2 separate regions of the Homo sapiens genome follow, and region 1 is linked to region 2. A link means that fine-mapping ties the variant in region 2 to the expression of a gene that starts in the linked region. Tissue or cell type: whole blood. Region 2 holds a variant in brackets; the other region holds the start of a gene. All regions are shown on one strand. Distances are between the middles of the regions.

The links. PIP is the estimated chance that this variant, and not a neighbour inherited with it, causes the effect.
Region 1: it holds the start of SNTG2-AS1, and the variant in region 2 is fine-mapped to the expression of SNTG2-AS1 in whole blood (TOPMed, PIP 0.96).

What each region holds. Positions count from the first base shown.
Region 1 is chr2:947,128-955,346 of GRCh38, forward strand. SNTG2-AS1 (SNTG2 antisense RNA 1) reads right to left here and starts at 4,265. Exons shown (of 3, transcript NR_136151.1): 1 at 4,158-4,265; 2 at 2,784-3,259; 3 at 2,507-2,674. It overlaps SNTG2 (syntrophin gamma 2), which reads left to right and starts at 3,722. Exons shown (of 17, transcript NM_018968.4): 1 at 3,722-3,941. The coding sequence starts at 3,870. RefSeq lists a silencer at 3,631-3,760.
Region 2 is chr2:745,379-753,804 of GRCh38, forward strand. LOC105373480 (a long non-coding RNA gene) reads left to right here. Exons shown (of 5, transcript XR_007086128.1): 2 at 4,356-4,478. Among named protein-coding and RNA genes, the nearest start is that of TMEM18, 72 kb to the left of the region's middle. The variant T/C (reference allele first, on the strand shown) is at 3,989.

The DNA.
Region 1 (8,219 bases), 200 kb after region 2:
CACAGCTAATCAGAAGGCTGAGGCAGGAGAATTGTTTCAACCAGCGAGGTAGAGCTTGCAGTGAGCCGAGATCGCGCCACTGCACTCCAGCCTAGGCGACAAGAGTGAGACTCTATCTCAAAATAAATAAATAAAATAAAAAATAAAAATAAAAATAAAAATAAAAATAAAAAAGAAATCATGCTAGTTTTGCTATCACATTTCAAACTGCAAACGTTACGGCTGCAGTGAGTGATAAGTGCCTATTTAAGACGGAAAAGACGCTGAACTTGTAGGTAGAAGACATGAGCGGAAAGGTGTTCCCACCGAGGGCACGTCAGCGCAGAAAGCACAATCCCATGGGAAGACTTCAGCAGTCAGTCCCCCAAAGTGAGTGACACTGAGCCATTCATGGCAAGTGAGGCATAGCTACACTGATTTAGGAGTGGGCTTGTCACGAAACCAAAAACCAAAAACCAAAAAACTGGAGAGGCTGTGTTTGCCAGTGAAGAAGCTGCTGCCATATTTCCGGCAGAGTTGAAGTTGATTAAAGGGAAAGGATGCCATCCAAAGCAAGTCTTCAATTGCAGTGAGACCAGGCTCCTCTGGAAGAAGATACCCAACAGAACCTACGTTCTTGAAAGGGCAAAGAAGGCCCCAGGGCATAAAACACTGAAGGGCTGATTTACCCTGTGCCGTGTGCAATGCTGTAGGACGTGTGGCCAAGCCAGGTGTGCTGCACACACAGAGGAACACTTATGCTCAAAAAACAAACGTTACCTGCTTGTGTTCAGGCAACATAACCAGAAAGCATGAGTGGTAACCACCATGTTTATGGAAGGGCTCCACCAGTACTTCCTCCCAAAGCCTTGGAAGGGGGAAGGTTGGAATATAAAGTCTCATTAGTAACAGACAATGTACCTGGCCATTCTGAATATGTTGACTATAAAAATGACAAGGCCAAGGTTGTATTATTATTAAGACCGGGTCTCACTCTGTCGCCCAAGCTGGAGCGCAGTGGCATGATCTCGGCTCAATGCAACCTCCGCCTCCAGGGTTCAAGGGATTCTCCAGCCTCAGCATCCCTAGTAGCTGGGACCACAGGTGCATGCCACCATGCCTGGCTAATTTTTGTATTTTTTTGTAGAGACGCGGTTTTACCATGTTGCCCAGGCTGGTCTCAAACACCTGAGCTCAAAGCAATCTACCTGCCTTGGCCTCCCGAATTGCTGGGATTACAGGTGTGAAGCACTGTGCCCGGCCTCAAGGTTGTATTTTTACCTTGAAATACAACCTCATTGCTCCTGCCTTTTGACCAGGGCATCTTCCAGTTTGTCTAGGCCACATACATCAGTTTGGTCAGCAATTGATGCATACATATATATGCATATATATATATATATATATATGCATGCAATTGATACATATATATATGCATGCAATTGATACATATATATACACACATACATAGTTCAGTACTATCCACGGTATCAGGCAGCCACTGGGGGTCTTGGAACATACCCATGAGGATGAGGGGTTACTGGAGTTTTTTGTACTACATTTAGAAAGTTTCTGTAAATTCAGAATTATTTCAAAGTTAAAAGTTAATAAAGAGACACTAACTGCAACTGGTTTTAGACACATCTCAGAATCAAAGCTATACTCATCACAAAAACCAGAAAGTTGAATTTTGGTAACCTCATGGGGGACATTCCCTCGCAGAGTTTCAGGATAGTCAGGGTTTTACTTTTTATTGTTATTGTTATTGCAGTAGAACCCTAGTATTTAAAATAAGCAAAATAACCCTTACGTGCAGTCCTGACACAGATGCATAAAAGCAGATAGGCAGTTAAAACTTGAATTAATTAGCCTTTCAAAAGCAGCCCCAGAGCGCCTACGACGTCCTGGAATCACAAAATTTTATTATAGAAAGGATTCCAGAGATTGTTAGCCAAAACTACATTATTTTACAAATGAATTAACAATTACCTTTGGTCTGAAAAACAAAAATATATGTGTCTATTCATTTAACGATAAAATTTTAACAAAAACTTGTCTCTCAAAGTCAACATTTATGCATGCAACACGCTGTTTTTCCTTCTTCAGGCCCTGGAATAGAATGTCCCTTTGCAAGGTAATGAGACAATATCTTTGTGCTATTTGTAGACATTTAATTTCTCAGAGATTATATGCACGCTCTTTTAAAAATGCAATTTAAAGGCAAACAATAATCTCTTGTACTTTTTCTTATTCTAGGTTTTGCTACAAATAAAAAGTAATACAATATTTTTTACCAATTCACCCAAGAAGCATATTTTGTAACAGCCACTGTGCCACGTATAAAAAGACCTGGTTTTTGCTATTCAAGAGCTTGTCCTCTGGTTAAACTGAGTGCTAAGAAGTGCTGGCAGACTGCCGTGAAGGTGAAACAGGAATACAGAGAATAGAGAAATGGGGAAGGGCGTCTGTGTTCGAAACCCAGGTCTGCTCAGGGGTCAAGCAAGTCGGAGTCAGAAAAAGTAAAGTGTTTAACATCGAGTTTTCAATATTTATTTGTTTACAATGCGTCACATTCTGCTCCTAGATAGGGTTAACCTCTGAAGACCTCAGATTTCGCTGCTTTTCCTTGCCGTGGAGAGGGAATAAAACGGGCATCGTGGCCTCCGCGATGGGCGCTCGTGCCTGGGTCGAAGGACTGGGGGGCGGAGGATTTGGAAAGGGAGAAAAATACGGGCTGGCTTCTTTTTAAAAAATGTGGGTAGCCTTGCCTGCCCCCGCCGCACTGGAATTTATCCTAAACTTACTTTCATTTACATTAAAACAAGACGATTTGAGTCTACCAAACCCAATACTGCATCTGTGAGGCTCCTTTTGGCACAAACCTGAATGAACAGCGGGAAACGCCGTCTCCCCTGGCGTCTGAGATCTGGGGTCCCCTCCCCACCTGGTCTCCTCGCTCCCGCCCCAGCCCCGTGCGCCCCAGGAGGGCACCGCCGAGCGCCGGGTCCCCGCAGGGTTCGGGAGACTCCGCGGACCGGAGGAGGGATAGGACCCCCGAGCTTTGGGGGCGGGAAGGGAGGGTGGAAGGAGGAGGGGAGCGGGGTTGGGGAAAGTTGGAGCTTCGGTATCTTTTCTCCGGGCCAGGCCGTCCTCGGGGCCCTGCGCTGCGTCTCCAAGTGCTGGGAAGACTCCGCGGGGAAAGGTCTGAGGACGCGGCCGGCTGGCACAGGTGTGGCGGCTTCAGAGGGCCGGGGAGAACCCATGGCTTCGAGGCTGTGGACTAGAAATGTCCCTGATTAGAAGCTGAGAACCTTTGGCCAGGGAGGTGGGGCGGCGGGGAGGGGTCGTCAAGCCGGTCCAGAGCGCGCCCACCTGCGCCACAAGGGAGAAGAGGTGCCCCCCGCCCCCCTCCGCCCACCGCCGCCACGATGCGCCGCGGACCTCGGCGACCCAGCCCGGGTAGAAGCGCGCGCTCCCCTCCTCCAGCCTCGTGCGCCGGCCCCTGCCCCGCCAGCCCCGCTATGGTCCCCCATCCACCCCCGCGGGAGCGCCCCTGTCCCCCCATCCTGCACTTCCCCCAGAGTCGCGCGCCAGTTTCCCGCCCCGTGGAAGCGCCCCTCTCCCGACTTCGGCTGATCCCCGCTCGCCGCCCTCCCCGCGGGTGCGCGCCCGGCCCCTCCCTCGCCCGGGGCGGGTCTGCGTGGGCGGTGCTCCGGGTCGGCGGGCGGAGCTCCGGTTCCCCAGCCCTGCGCCCCGGTGGAGCCCGAGCCGGAGCCGGCAGAGGGGCGCGGGCGCGGACGCGGCGCCTGGCGGGGCCCTGGGAGGCTCGGACGGGGTCCTGGCGTTGAGCTCGGCCGGCCCGGAGCGCGGACCCAGCCGCAGGGGCGGCGATGGGCACCGAGGGACCCCCGCCCCCGGCCGCCTCCCGCGGACGCCAGGGCTGCCTGCTGGTACCTGCGCGGGTGAGTGCGGCCCCTCAGCGCCCCTTCACCTCCGGCCCCCCTTCCCTCTCCTTCGCGCCCTTCTCCCCCCGCCCCTCCTCCCTCCACGCCCCCTCGCTCCCCGCGACCCCTTCCCTGTCTCCGGGGACGGCTGGCCGGAGGGTGGGCGCCGGAGCCCCGGGACGCAGTGGGCACCCGCCCCCTGGCCGCTCTGCTCCCTCCAGCCCAGTGTCTTACTGGAAACTTGCAGGCTTTGCTCCTCCAGCGTCTTCCAAGGTTTGGTTTTGAGGCGCCCGGGCTTCCCTTTACTGCGTGGGAAGTAGTGCTTTCCAGAATTTGGGATTTGAGATTGGCCCGGCATTGCTTCCCAGGAGCGGCTCTTTCGGGCCCAGGCGGTGGCTCGGACCGGAGCGTCCCCCCTGCAGCCTTCGGGCGCCCAGGCCAGGTCTGAGTTGGCCAGTTTGAGCCCAGCCAGGTGCATGGCGCGGCCTCGGCAGGTGCTGGGGGCTCTAGGCCATTCGGGGAACCGCTGGGACGCCAACTGGGTAATACGGATTTCTTTTTTGAAGTCTATTCTGGTTCCCACCCTAAATAACTCCCTCTTCACCTTCTTATTTTTAAATAACTAAACTATTGATTGACAGAAAACAGAAATGTTGGCCCAAAGAAAAACGAAAAGTTCTTGGAAACCTTCAAGTTGCCACCCACAGCACAGCCTCGAGTTGTGAAAACAGTTTAAGGGAGCACGTGGCCACCCCAGCCCTAGGAGGCTGCCGAGAAGCGCGGCTGTTAATGAAAATGCATTGACAACCACTCCTTTAGGATTCCTTCCCCAGGAGCTCCCAGTCCCAGGAGCGACCAGGAATACAGTTAGCCCTCCCTTATAGGACAGTGGAGAGACGGTTCAGAAGGCCACGGGTTGAGGGCTGCTACAAATTCCTATCGTCATAATAATGATTCTAAACTAGGACTGTGGTCGTCGCTACTGTGATGTTAAAAAGATTTCTATGTAGAGACAGGTGCATCTTCATTCAAGTAGCACCTTTCTGGGCTTTTACTACAAAATATGAAAATTAAATTTCATGTAAAATGTGGGTGTTCGTTTCTTGAAGTACTTTGTAATATGAATAGCTATCCCACTGTTGCCCATGGTAATCAAACCCGAGAAAATATGCGGGGATTACCTGGAAATAAACCGCAGTAAAAACTGCAGGCGCTGTGGAATCACAGGCTTTCCGTCTGGTCACTGCCTTCAGCTTTATAATGATGCCCTCCCACGGTTAGGGATTGTGCATTTTTCTCCAGACATTCGAGCAAAGCAATTCTTGCTTTTAATCATTGTAATTATAGCGGAAGCGTTGAAGTGGATTCATCATACTTCATGATTGACCCACTTGATGAGTTATTGGCAATAACGTCAACAAATAAAGCAACTGCGCGTATTCTAGTAAATGCTCTCCTTTGCGCTCAGTATTAATTAAGGTGCTAAATTTGATGTTTTCCAGTCAAGAGTGGCCTCTGCTCACCTGTTTGCTACAAGATGTGATTGGCGCTTTCTTTCTAATAAGGACCTTGATTATTTGAAACAGCCTGTCTGAATTGTATTGAAAGAAACTTTTTTTTTAGCGTTGGAGGCCAAGTATTACAATAAGATGGAGCATTTTAAGAGCAAGACTCCTAACTTTGCAGTCATAAGTAATTAGGTATGTGCTAAGCCTACCTTAGACACCAGTGCATGGTCATGTTAGCTCAGATTCTTATGTATTTAAAACGAATCTGTTAAGTATTGGTGTTGGCAGGTTTGTCTTGAAAACATGAATGTTCTTAGTATACAATGTCATCCTTACTTAATGGCAGAATTATTTTCTTACCATAACTGCACAATATTATTCAACTTGTGTAATTATTTAATCATTTCAGTTAAGAGAACTTGGTGCTTTTAACTAGAAAAAGATGAAAGTCTTTTCTAAATCTTATATTTCTAGTTATATTTTTTCTATCTGAAGTCAAAACTATACACATTCTTTATCATGACTGCTTGTTTGAATCATGGAATTTGGCCACGTTTGAAGGTCTCCTGTTCGGTAACAGACCTGTTTTGTTTCCCCTTTCAAGTGCCTGTTCCCGATGTTTTTTTCTAAGTTAAGTGAGTTCATGGAGCTCTGTCTCTGACCATACCTGGATTTGAGGGGTAAAATCCCACTGGCAGACAACCTCAGTACAATGTGCGAAGTGTGTCTTGCTTGTAGCTTCAAAGACTACTATTGGTTGATGTTTACAGCACATTTGCTGCTTTTAAATGACAACACTTCTTCAGTCTGGGGCGCTGGAAGAATTATTGGCATGAGCCGGGAACATGCCCATTTATGTGATGAGCTTGCCCACTGAAGGGGGAAAGCACGTTAGGTCATTTTAAAGGTGCATGTGGGGTAAGGGCACCACCTAATCATCTGTTTACAGATGTGAATTGCTGCATGAGATGAATGAAGCATCTGAGCTCCTAAGAAGGTTCCCCATTCCTTCTATGCTTTGGTTATGTTTCTCATCCTTGCTGACTCATCTTTAATTTCAACTGTAGAATTTCTATTGACGTCTATGACATCATAAGCAAAATCCATGCATTACAAAGCAGGCAGTTACCTGACTTTACCAGGAGACATGGAGACATGTTCCCCAGTAAATATTTGAATGAGGTCCAATTAAGAAAAGTGTGCCTTGTTTTTGTTTTTGTTTTTTTCCAACATGGGATGTTAAAATTGCCTTGTTTTCTGAATGGTGTATGTGGAGCAACAGCTTCTTGTCTCTGGATATCTTTATGGATGATGACTGTAGACAAGGCATTTAAGCTTCAGTTTTAATTTAGATCTGCTTCTCAAGATACCCCATGAGGCTCTGAGTGAGTTGGCAGAGGGGCTGGCATTGCAGTTCTCGGTGACAGAGGGTGTGTTTGCATCGCAGGCCTCCTATTTACTAAATGGGTATATTCAGGATAGACTTACTAAGCAGTGTGATTTTCTGGCTTTCCTGTTAGCTCATGTAGCATGTGACAGCAGGCACACGAGGGACCCCAAAGAGGAGCTGCTCTCAGGCTCTGCTGCGCACCCCTAGCTCCTGCGCTGCTGGGCATGGGGCGGACACAGGCAGGTGCTCGTGGAAATGGAGAAGGAAGGAGGGAGATCAGGGTTCCAGGGAACTCAGAGAACCCCGGCTTCGGGAACCACCATCCTCTCTGGCTCTGGCTTCTCACCTGTGGAATGTGTGCTTGGGTTCCGAAGGTCACTTTGTATCTGATTCCAAATCCCTCAGAAACTCACTCTTTAATTAGTTCTAGAGGTATTTTTGTTGAGTGAGACACAACAAGGAAGGTGGAAAACATGCTTTTGGAGGAAAAATGCACTCAGGATTTAATGGAAAATGGACCTTGAACTGGTGTGTACTTGTCATTGTTGTCCAGCTGGTTACCGCATGTTGTCATGACTGTAGTTTTGAATAGTCGACTTTGGATTATTTTCAGCTAACACTAGATGTCACTTTCCCCCAGTCCATACTAAAGTTCCCTGTAAAATTCAGGAAGCCGAGGTTATCCTTCCTATTTCTGTATTAAATGCTAAGCTCCCCTATGTGGGTGTAATCCCTCACCTGAGGACTGACCCCAGCCTGTGGCTCTTCATCCCCTGCCCCTCTGAACAAGAAGGCCCTCCAAAAGCTCACCCATTTCTGGCTGCCTTCCAGGGACCGTGCTGCTTCTTCACCCCATCAGCCTGAACCTTCCTGTTTTCTCCCCTTGCACATTTTAATAAATACTGTTAACAATGCTGTGAATATGAGGATGTGATTTTGCAATTAGAATTACATGTTAAAATAGTTTGCTTTTTAAGGAGTCTACATTTTTACATCCTATAAATATGATTATAAACTAGCTACATTTTAATTTAGCAAAGACTTTGGATTTAAGAAAGTGAGTATGCTTCTTATTTAGGGGATACTGTTCTAAACATTTGTAAAATGTAAAGTTATATTTTTAGTGCAAAAACTATTAAACTTCACAGTCTGCTAACTGCTAAACTGCTAAGTTTTAATTCTGTTTTATCTGTTATACTTTGTAAAGAAACTGCATGTCATTCACTTCTCTGGACTTGAAACCTAGATCAGTGCATGGCCTGTTATTTTGCAATAATCCGCATTAGTGTTAATGAAAAAGGTGACCCTCCACTGTCAAGATTCTGAGTATCAACTCTGGGAGTTACCAACATTCACTCGACATTTGGGTGAACATCATTTGATGATGGCACCGAATCG
Region 2 (8,426 bases):
ATTGCTTGTTTTTGTCAGGTTTATCAAAGATCAGATGGCTGTAGATGTGTGGTGTTATTTCTGAGGCCTCTGTTCTATTCCATTGGTCTATATATCTGTTTTGGTACCAGTACCATGCTGTTTTGGTTACTGTAGCCTTGTAGTATAGTTTGAAGTCTGGTAGCATGATGCCTCCAGCTTTGTTCTTTTTGCTTAGGATTGTCTTGGCTATATGGTCTCTGTTTTGGTAACTTGGAACATTTTTCTCCAAGCATCTGCTTTCAGCATCTTTCTCCATCTTTATGGATGACAATTACCAATATATCAGGTTGCTTGGACTTGTCCACAGATCATGATGCTCTTTTCTTTCTTTCTGTTTCTCTCTCCTATAGCATCTTTTTTTTCTATGTACATTGACTGTGTGTACTTTGTGTTTCATTGTGGTTAGTTTCTTTTGCTGTGTCTCCAACTTCATGCCTATATGCTTCTGCAATGTGTAATCTGTTGTTCCTCCCATCCACTGTAGTTTTCATTTTAAACGTTGTAGCTTTTTTCCTCTAGAAGTTGGGTTTGAGTCTTTTATATATCATGAGTGTCTCTACTTAACTTTTGGACATACCTAATTCAGGTATAGTAATTTATAAATGTATTTGATAATTCTATATCTGTGTAAATCCTGGGTCAGTTTTTATGAATTTAATTTTTTCATCATCATATTATCACATTATTTAGAGATTTTAACTTTAATATTCCTGACTTCTTTTATCATGGGGTTTCTTGTATGCTTCATGAGTTAGAGCATCCTTCAGAAATCTTAAAAACTAATCAATGCATGAAAACTACCGGTGGAACAAAAAGGTTCAGCCACAGAAAACCACAGCATCATTTTGGTTTTAATATTTTTTTCACCCCCCTCCCCCCGCCCCACCACCAACAAATGTTATGTTTTGCGTTTTGGAAAATTTGTTTCTTAATTATAAAAACACACAATTTATTTTTCACATTAAAAAATTACATTGTTTAATGACAGAAACTCATGAATCCACAGTCACTCGGGGTCTGTCTGCTGGGCTCCACCAGCAGCAGCTGCACGCTCCCTGTGTGAGGATTCTGAGGTCCTCACATAGGGCAGGACACAAAGGTGAAGATGTGCTCTGTTCTACCTGCTTTGGTAGAAGTGGCATAGCTTTTCCCCTTGCAGTCTATCGGCCAGAAATGGCCACGTGGCCTCACCCACAGCAAGGGAGGCTGAGTGTATGGGGAACAATGTGGGGTGTTGTCGTCACAGCAGCTCCGCGGACAACACCTTCAGATCCTCAGGAGAAAGGAGCGATGCCGTAGTCATTAACTCATCTGTTTTCTCAACCTCAGCTCTAATCCATCAGGACATCGTATTGCCTCTACCTTTCAGATGTACCCAAACTTCAGCCACCCCTCGTGACCTCAGCCATTCTGGCCTGCGTCACAATAATCTCCATCTGGACTCCTGACGAATGTGCAGACTCCCTTCTCAACACTGGCCAGATATCTGCTGTGTCAGGCCAGACCCCTTCTCTACTCAAACCCTGCAGCATTTCCCTAGTTAAAGCAGATTGCCAAGGCTCTCCCAGAGCTGGGTCATGACCTGTAGAGATGGCATCTGAGCAAATTCTGATACTTAAAAAAAATTTTATTCTCCTTATTTTCATTCCACTTGAACCAAACAGCTTCACTGAGCATGCAGGACACAGGTCAGAGCCTTACCCTAGCTGTGCCTTTCTCTGGAATGTTCCTTTCCGAGGCAGCTCATGTCCACATCTGAGTGTAATGGAGGCTCAGACGTCACCTCCACAGGGATGCCCACCCTGACTGCACACTTAGCCTCGCAGCCTTGCTCACAACTGTGTCCAGGATCCCTTATTCTTACATACATAGTACCTTTTATCATTTAATTCCTACTCCACTTATTTATTGCAATTTTTATTGTTACTGACCTGTTTTATTACCCATCAGATTGTAAGTTCTACAGACACAGGGGAATTTGTCAGTAAGTGTATTATTGAATTCCAATCACTGGAATAAGACCTGGAAATACTTGGTACTTAATATATGTTCATTGAATGAATAAATCTCTGAGAAAAAATAGGGCAGTTCTGTTTCCTGATGCCCTAAGACATGTAGAGAATGCTACCCAAGGCACCCATTAATCATCGAGATAAAACGTTTAGACTCCCCTGAAGTTTTCGCCTATAGTTTACCTTTATAATTTGCTTCATTTTCAAGGCTGCCTTCACCCTTCATTTATTCGGATTTTTCCTTAGGAAAAGAGATCATGGGAAGGCATATCGGGGACGGAGCCCACGCTTCAGGGCCATTCTGCTGGGCTTTCCTACAGTGACCTCACCATCACCACCACCACCGACAACGACATCACAGCCCCGACCTCACCATCACCACCACCAATGACAACACTACAGCCCTGACCTCACCATCACCACCACCAACAACGACATCACAGCCCTGACCTCACCATCACCACCACCAATGACAACACTACAGCCCTGACCTCACCATCACCACCACCAATGACAATGACATCACAGCCCCGACCTCACCATCACCACCACCAATGACGATGCTACAGCCCCGACCTCACCATCACCACCACCAATGACAATGACATAACATCCCCGACCTCACCATCACCACCAATGACAACGACATCACAGCCCCGACCTCACCATCACCACCAATGACAATGACATCACAGCCCTGACCTCACCATCACTACCACCAATGACAACGACATCACAGCCCCAACCTCACCATTACCACCACCAACAACAATGACATCATGGCCCACAGGTGGCCAAACCCTTCAATCACCTGCAAACCAGCGACCCTCACTTTTGCTTCTGAAACTTATAAAAGCAAAAACAAAAAAACAGATTCTCAAACCCAAACCGTGGCAATTCTGGTTCAGCAGGTGTTAGTTGAGACCAGGCACTTTCATTTAAAATCACTACAGAAGTGTTTTTATGCACATCCAAAATTGAGAACCCCTGTGACAGCTCCTTAATATTCCCAAAGGGTTATTTAAGACTTACACATCTTTAAATGTGTGAGTACACAATGGTCGATGATCCTGCAATTCTCATTTATAAAAAGATGGCAGTCGTATCCAACTCCCGAGACGGCGAACCCGCACCATTTCCATGCGCGCTCTGTGCACAAGGCTGGCCTCACGTTGGCCAGCGACTCCCTCCCGGCGAGTCAGTTCTCAACTTGCTTCAGCAGAGGTGCATATGGTAGGGAGTGGCCCAACCTTTGGGATGGCCAGAGATCATCAGACCTGTGGGTCCATGTGCCGTTTGCTGTCATAAGTTCCTGTCATAACTCCCTGTGCGCCCATTTTGTTGGATGTGTTCACACTGTATTTTAGTTGCCAATGACTATATTTCAGTGTGTCTGCATAGAGGGCTGTGCTCTGTATTTCAGCATGTCCGCATGGAGAGCTGTGTGTGTTTCTATATTTCAGCGTGTCTGCATAGAGGCCTGTGGGTGTCTTCATATTTCAGTGTGTCTGCATAGAGGGCCGAGCTCCGTATGTCAGCGTGTCTGCATAGAGGCCTGTGGGTGTCTTCATATTTCAGTGTGTCTGCATAGAGGGCTGAGCTCCGTATGTCAGCGTGTCTGCATAGAGGCTGTGTGTGTCCCCTTAATCTTTGTTACTCTAGTTTTCAGATATTGTCTGGAACTGGAGAAGCCCCACATTTTATGATGGATAAATAAATAAAGGTTAAACGCAGGGCTGCGGAGCTCCGTTGCCTTCCTCGTAATTCTGCGAGACTCTGCGATATACTTTTCAGGGAGCATCACATTAGCTGTCACACACTGAGTGTCAACCAAAGCCACGCAAGGTGGCCTAAAATTAACGAGCTCGTTATGGAGGAGCCTCCACTAACGAAGTCAACAAATGCAAACTGGTTTGGTAACCTTCTGTAAAGAAAAGATCCATCATTGGTTAATA[T/C]TTATTGTATAGATTATGGCAAAATTTAAAAAATAAACAGTATTTACTGAAATTTTATACATTGTATTTGTTCACTCATGATTTCAACATTTATTATCTCGTGTGCTCCAGACACCGGGCTGGTGACACCAGGGTCCAGATCACACTTTCCCTGTCCTCGCACTGGGGGGAAAGAAGAATAAATACCTTTATCTAAAACATAGTTACAAATAATAGCAAATCCTTTGAAAGGAACAAAACAGAATGAGATGGGTGTCTTACATCTGATGTGGGTGGGACAAGTCCTCTCTCAGGAGGAAATATTTTGGGCCAACTCTTCCTTGCCTTGGCAAATATGACTTAGTGAAGTAATGGATTTTTCATGCAGGGTGTTGAAAGGCTCAGGGTGCTCGCCCACATCAGTGAGGGAGGTGCAGCTGATGAAGGAAGTGCTGGGTGCAGAAGGGGATGCTCTGAAATGGTGGCTTCTGTTTGCAGTTTCAAAGCTCAGGTAATTTTCTTGTGCTTTATCTACTTATGCCTAAATTCAGAGGAAGGATAAAGAAAAAACAAACAATAATATTGAATTCTACTTCGGGTGAGACATTATGCTTGTTGCTTTTATGTCTGTCATCTACTTAGATCATAAAAACCCCGTGTGGTCTGACACATTATTTCTAGTTTACAGGTGAATAAATTAAATTCATAGACTAATATTACCTGAGTCCTAGAAATGGGCTTTAACTCAGGTATTGCTGACATCTAGATCAGTGCAGTAGAACTTTAGTTAATTCCAGTTATAAAATAGCTATTAATTAGGGTTTTCATTGGCTTAAATGTTTAAAACTGAGTTGTCACCTGTTTATTTTATTTTATTTTATTTTATTTTTGAGACAGGGCCTTTCTCTGTTGCCCAGACTGGAGTGCAGTGGCGTGATAGCAGCTCTCTGCAGCCTCAAACTCTTGGGCTGAAAAGATATTCCCATTTCAGCTTCCTGAGTAGCTGAGACTACAAGTACACATCACCACACTTGGCTAATTCTTTTTTTTCTTTTTCTGAGACAGAGTCCTGCTCTGATGCCCAGGCTAGAATACAGTGGCACGATCTCAGCTCACTCCAGTCTCCACCATCCCAGGTTCAAGTGATTCTCCTGCCTCAGCTTCCTGAGTAGCTGGGATTACAGGTGCCCGCCACCACACCCAACTAATTTTTGTAGAGACAGGGTTTCACCATCTTGGCCAGGCTGGTCTTGAACTCCTGACCTCGTGATCCACCTGCCTCTGCCTCCCAAAGTGCTGGGATTACAAGTGTGAGCCACCACGCCTGGCTGGATAATTTTTTATATACGTTTTGTAGAGACAGTGCCTTGCTATGTTGCCCAGGCTGATCTTGAACTCCTGGCCTCAAGCAATCCTCTCCCTTCAGCCTCCAAAAGCCCTGAGATTACGGGCCTGAGCCACCATGCCCGGCCAGTTTTGTTTTTTATCTTAAATGTGTATTTGTGAATTATTTTGCAATGGTTGGCGGGCTCACAGACCCTGAAAAGGCTTGTACTTTTGGTAGAAAGGCATGAGCAACACACAAAAATATCTGCAAACAGACATGGCTTTTTTCCTCAACATGTTCTAAATCATTTGAAAACTTTTAATTTTCAAAATTAAAGGCCTGAGTAAAATTCCAGCTGACAAATCCACCTCTTATTCTCCCTTGGTAATTAATCATGAGATGGTAAACACAGAAGACCTTCAGTGAAGTTGAAGCCTTTACTATACGAAGGTTCTAGTGAGGGGAGTGCAAAGTGGGGCCGCAGGACAGACACCTGCTCTGATGACCACGGAACATGGCGTGGTGGAGTCAATGTGTGGAAACTCAGCAATGGTGTGAGTCTCGCGTGGAGCTGCCGACCCATCGCTTCCTCATGGGAAAGATTTTTCCACTTGGGCTCCACTTATCGCACTCAAGAAACACTGGATATTCTGGGAAACTCTTGGAGGGCAGGCAAAAACCATCCTCCCTCAGACATGGAGCATTGACTAAGCTGCTTGTACCTGGGCAGTGTCTGTTTTAAGTATTAACTAAAAATCATTTCCAAGGGAAGCAACATAGGAAACAGGAATTAAAAATGCAAATGCTGAATGCTGTGTGTGTGCACATTTGAAGGGGCCAGACCACTCTCCACTTTGATTTATGCGTAAACGCAACTATCCCTCCCTGTACTCACCCCTTAAGCCCACATGACCGCTGAACAATGACCCCAGTCAAATCTCAGCCACTCCTCTTTCCTCACTCAAAAGCCACCATGGCCGAGTTCCTCGGGTCTAGCTGCTGCTCTGGGCTTCCGATGGCCTTGAAACCCCATGTTTGTCCCTGTGCTTCTGTCAAGTCATTTTTCCACAGCGTTCTGGGGCCACAGGTGAAGGGTGAGGCATCTGCAGGTGTTGAGGTGCCTGCAGGGACCTCTCAGGGGACGCCTGCTGGTGTCTGCGTGGCGTGAACACTGTTCTATTTGGACCCAGCCTGGGAATGACCTTAGGCCACTTACCTGTCCTCATCTACAACAGGGACTTTTAATATCTGGGATAGAAATGCTTTTGTTCTGTAGGTTTTGTTTATGGTGTTATGATTGTATGTTTATTATCCATTAATTTATTTATTCAAAATATCATTGAGCAAATATTTGCTTCCAAATATTCCATTAGATATTTCATATATATTCTATTATTTAATTCTCATAATATTATGGGATGGTGAGAACGTGCAAAAATGGAGGTTGGAAGTAGCGAGTCGCCCAGTCACACTCGACTCCTAAGGAAGACAATTTAGATTGAATCTGGGTCTTCTGATGAAAAATCTACTTTCTCCTATTCATATTGTTGCCATTTTATGGCATATTATGTTTTTATAATCCTAACAATTTATTAACATATAAAACCTGACACACAACAGCAGGCACGAGGGTAACATAGCAGATGCCGGTAGCACCATCACGGTTCCACGTCAGCCGTCCCCCAGAGGCTGCAAACTCCAGTTTTAAGATAGAATGTTTTTTCCTGCTCCTCTATCCCAGTACGTGAAATTCCTACATGGCGATCCACACCCTATGTCTCCCTCCTGAAGGTGTCATGATCCACGCCGACCCTGGGTAACCCTGGGTAGAGGCTGAGTGAGTTCCAGTGGTGACTGGGAGAAAATCTCCCTGTGATGGGAACTGGGCTTCAGACTTACTTGTTCCAGAGAAAATAATGTGACTCTTCGTGTCTTCCTGAGTTTATCTGTGAAACTGGCCAGTGTTTACTGAGTGTAGCACATGCAACCTGCACTTCTGGGCGCTGGAGACACGGGTGAGCACGTGACAAGCACACGCCCGCTCTGACCCACCGCGGGGTGGGACACACCTCAGAGTCATCATGATGAAGAAAATGCCAGAGAATTTTGTCTGCCCTTAATTTCTTATTAAATCACCCTAAAGGTGGGCATCCCCAGATCTTTTGGAAGACATCCATGTTCTCCAGGTAGAAGCCTCTGTTCTGTTTGGTCAGGAAGAGGTGTCCTGCTCTGGCCGTTCCAATATTCAGGAAACAGGTTCCTGTGTTGGGCTTCTCTCCCTTCCGTTTTTAGCCTTCTTTGCTACTACTCATCACCTCGGGCCAGGTTAGTACTTCCCTTCTCCATAAAGACATTCTTAGGGCATCTGCCTCGATGACACTCTCCCTTCCATGAGCATCTATTGCTCAGACATCTTTTCAGCAATACTAGAGTCTGGCCATCATACCAAATGCTAGGAGAAACTTAATACCCACATTTAAGAAGTGCACCATCAAATGTGGAAAACAAATGTTTAGACACATAATCTGCTATGGACATTTCATTGAAAGTGGATACAAGGTGAAGAGGGAGAAAGAGGAAGTCCACCCTGTCCATCCAAAAGGAGCTGACGGAAGGCTAAGTGAACACCACCTGAGTTCTGAAGGAAGCGCGGGATGCACCTGCAGGAGGCGGCTGGAGAGGGGTGCACAGGCTCCACACGTATCCGCTTGGTCCCACGGGTGCTGCCAGTGAGGCCAGCTGTAGCCAGGGGTAATCTGATGTCATTGCCCTTGTTCAAGACAAAGCAATGATGAGGTTGGCATTTAATGTCATCAATAGCAATTAGCTGCATAGGAAATTAATGACCAATTGAATTAATTCAAGCATTAACTCTTTACGAATTCTTCCTCCAAATATTGAGAACGTCTTCACGGAAGTGCTTTTGTGCAGAGTTCACATGGGAAGTTTTAAGGACTTAAGATGAATTCATTGCACTTAACTACTTAGGAAATAAACTGTCTTGTACCTGGTTATGAATATAATGCAGGCAATTCCCAGTAGTCATGATATTTGCTTGCTCTTCTAAAGAAATGTGACCACTGGATCCATAGAAGAAAATGGACTTTCCTGCACTATTTTTATTTTCATATT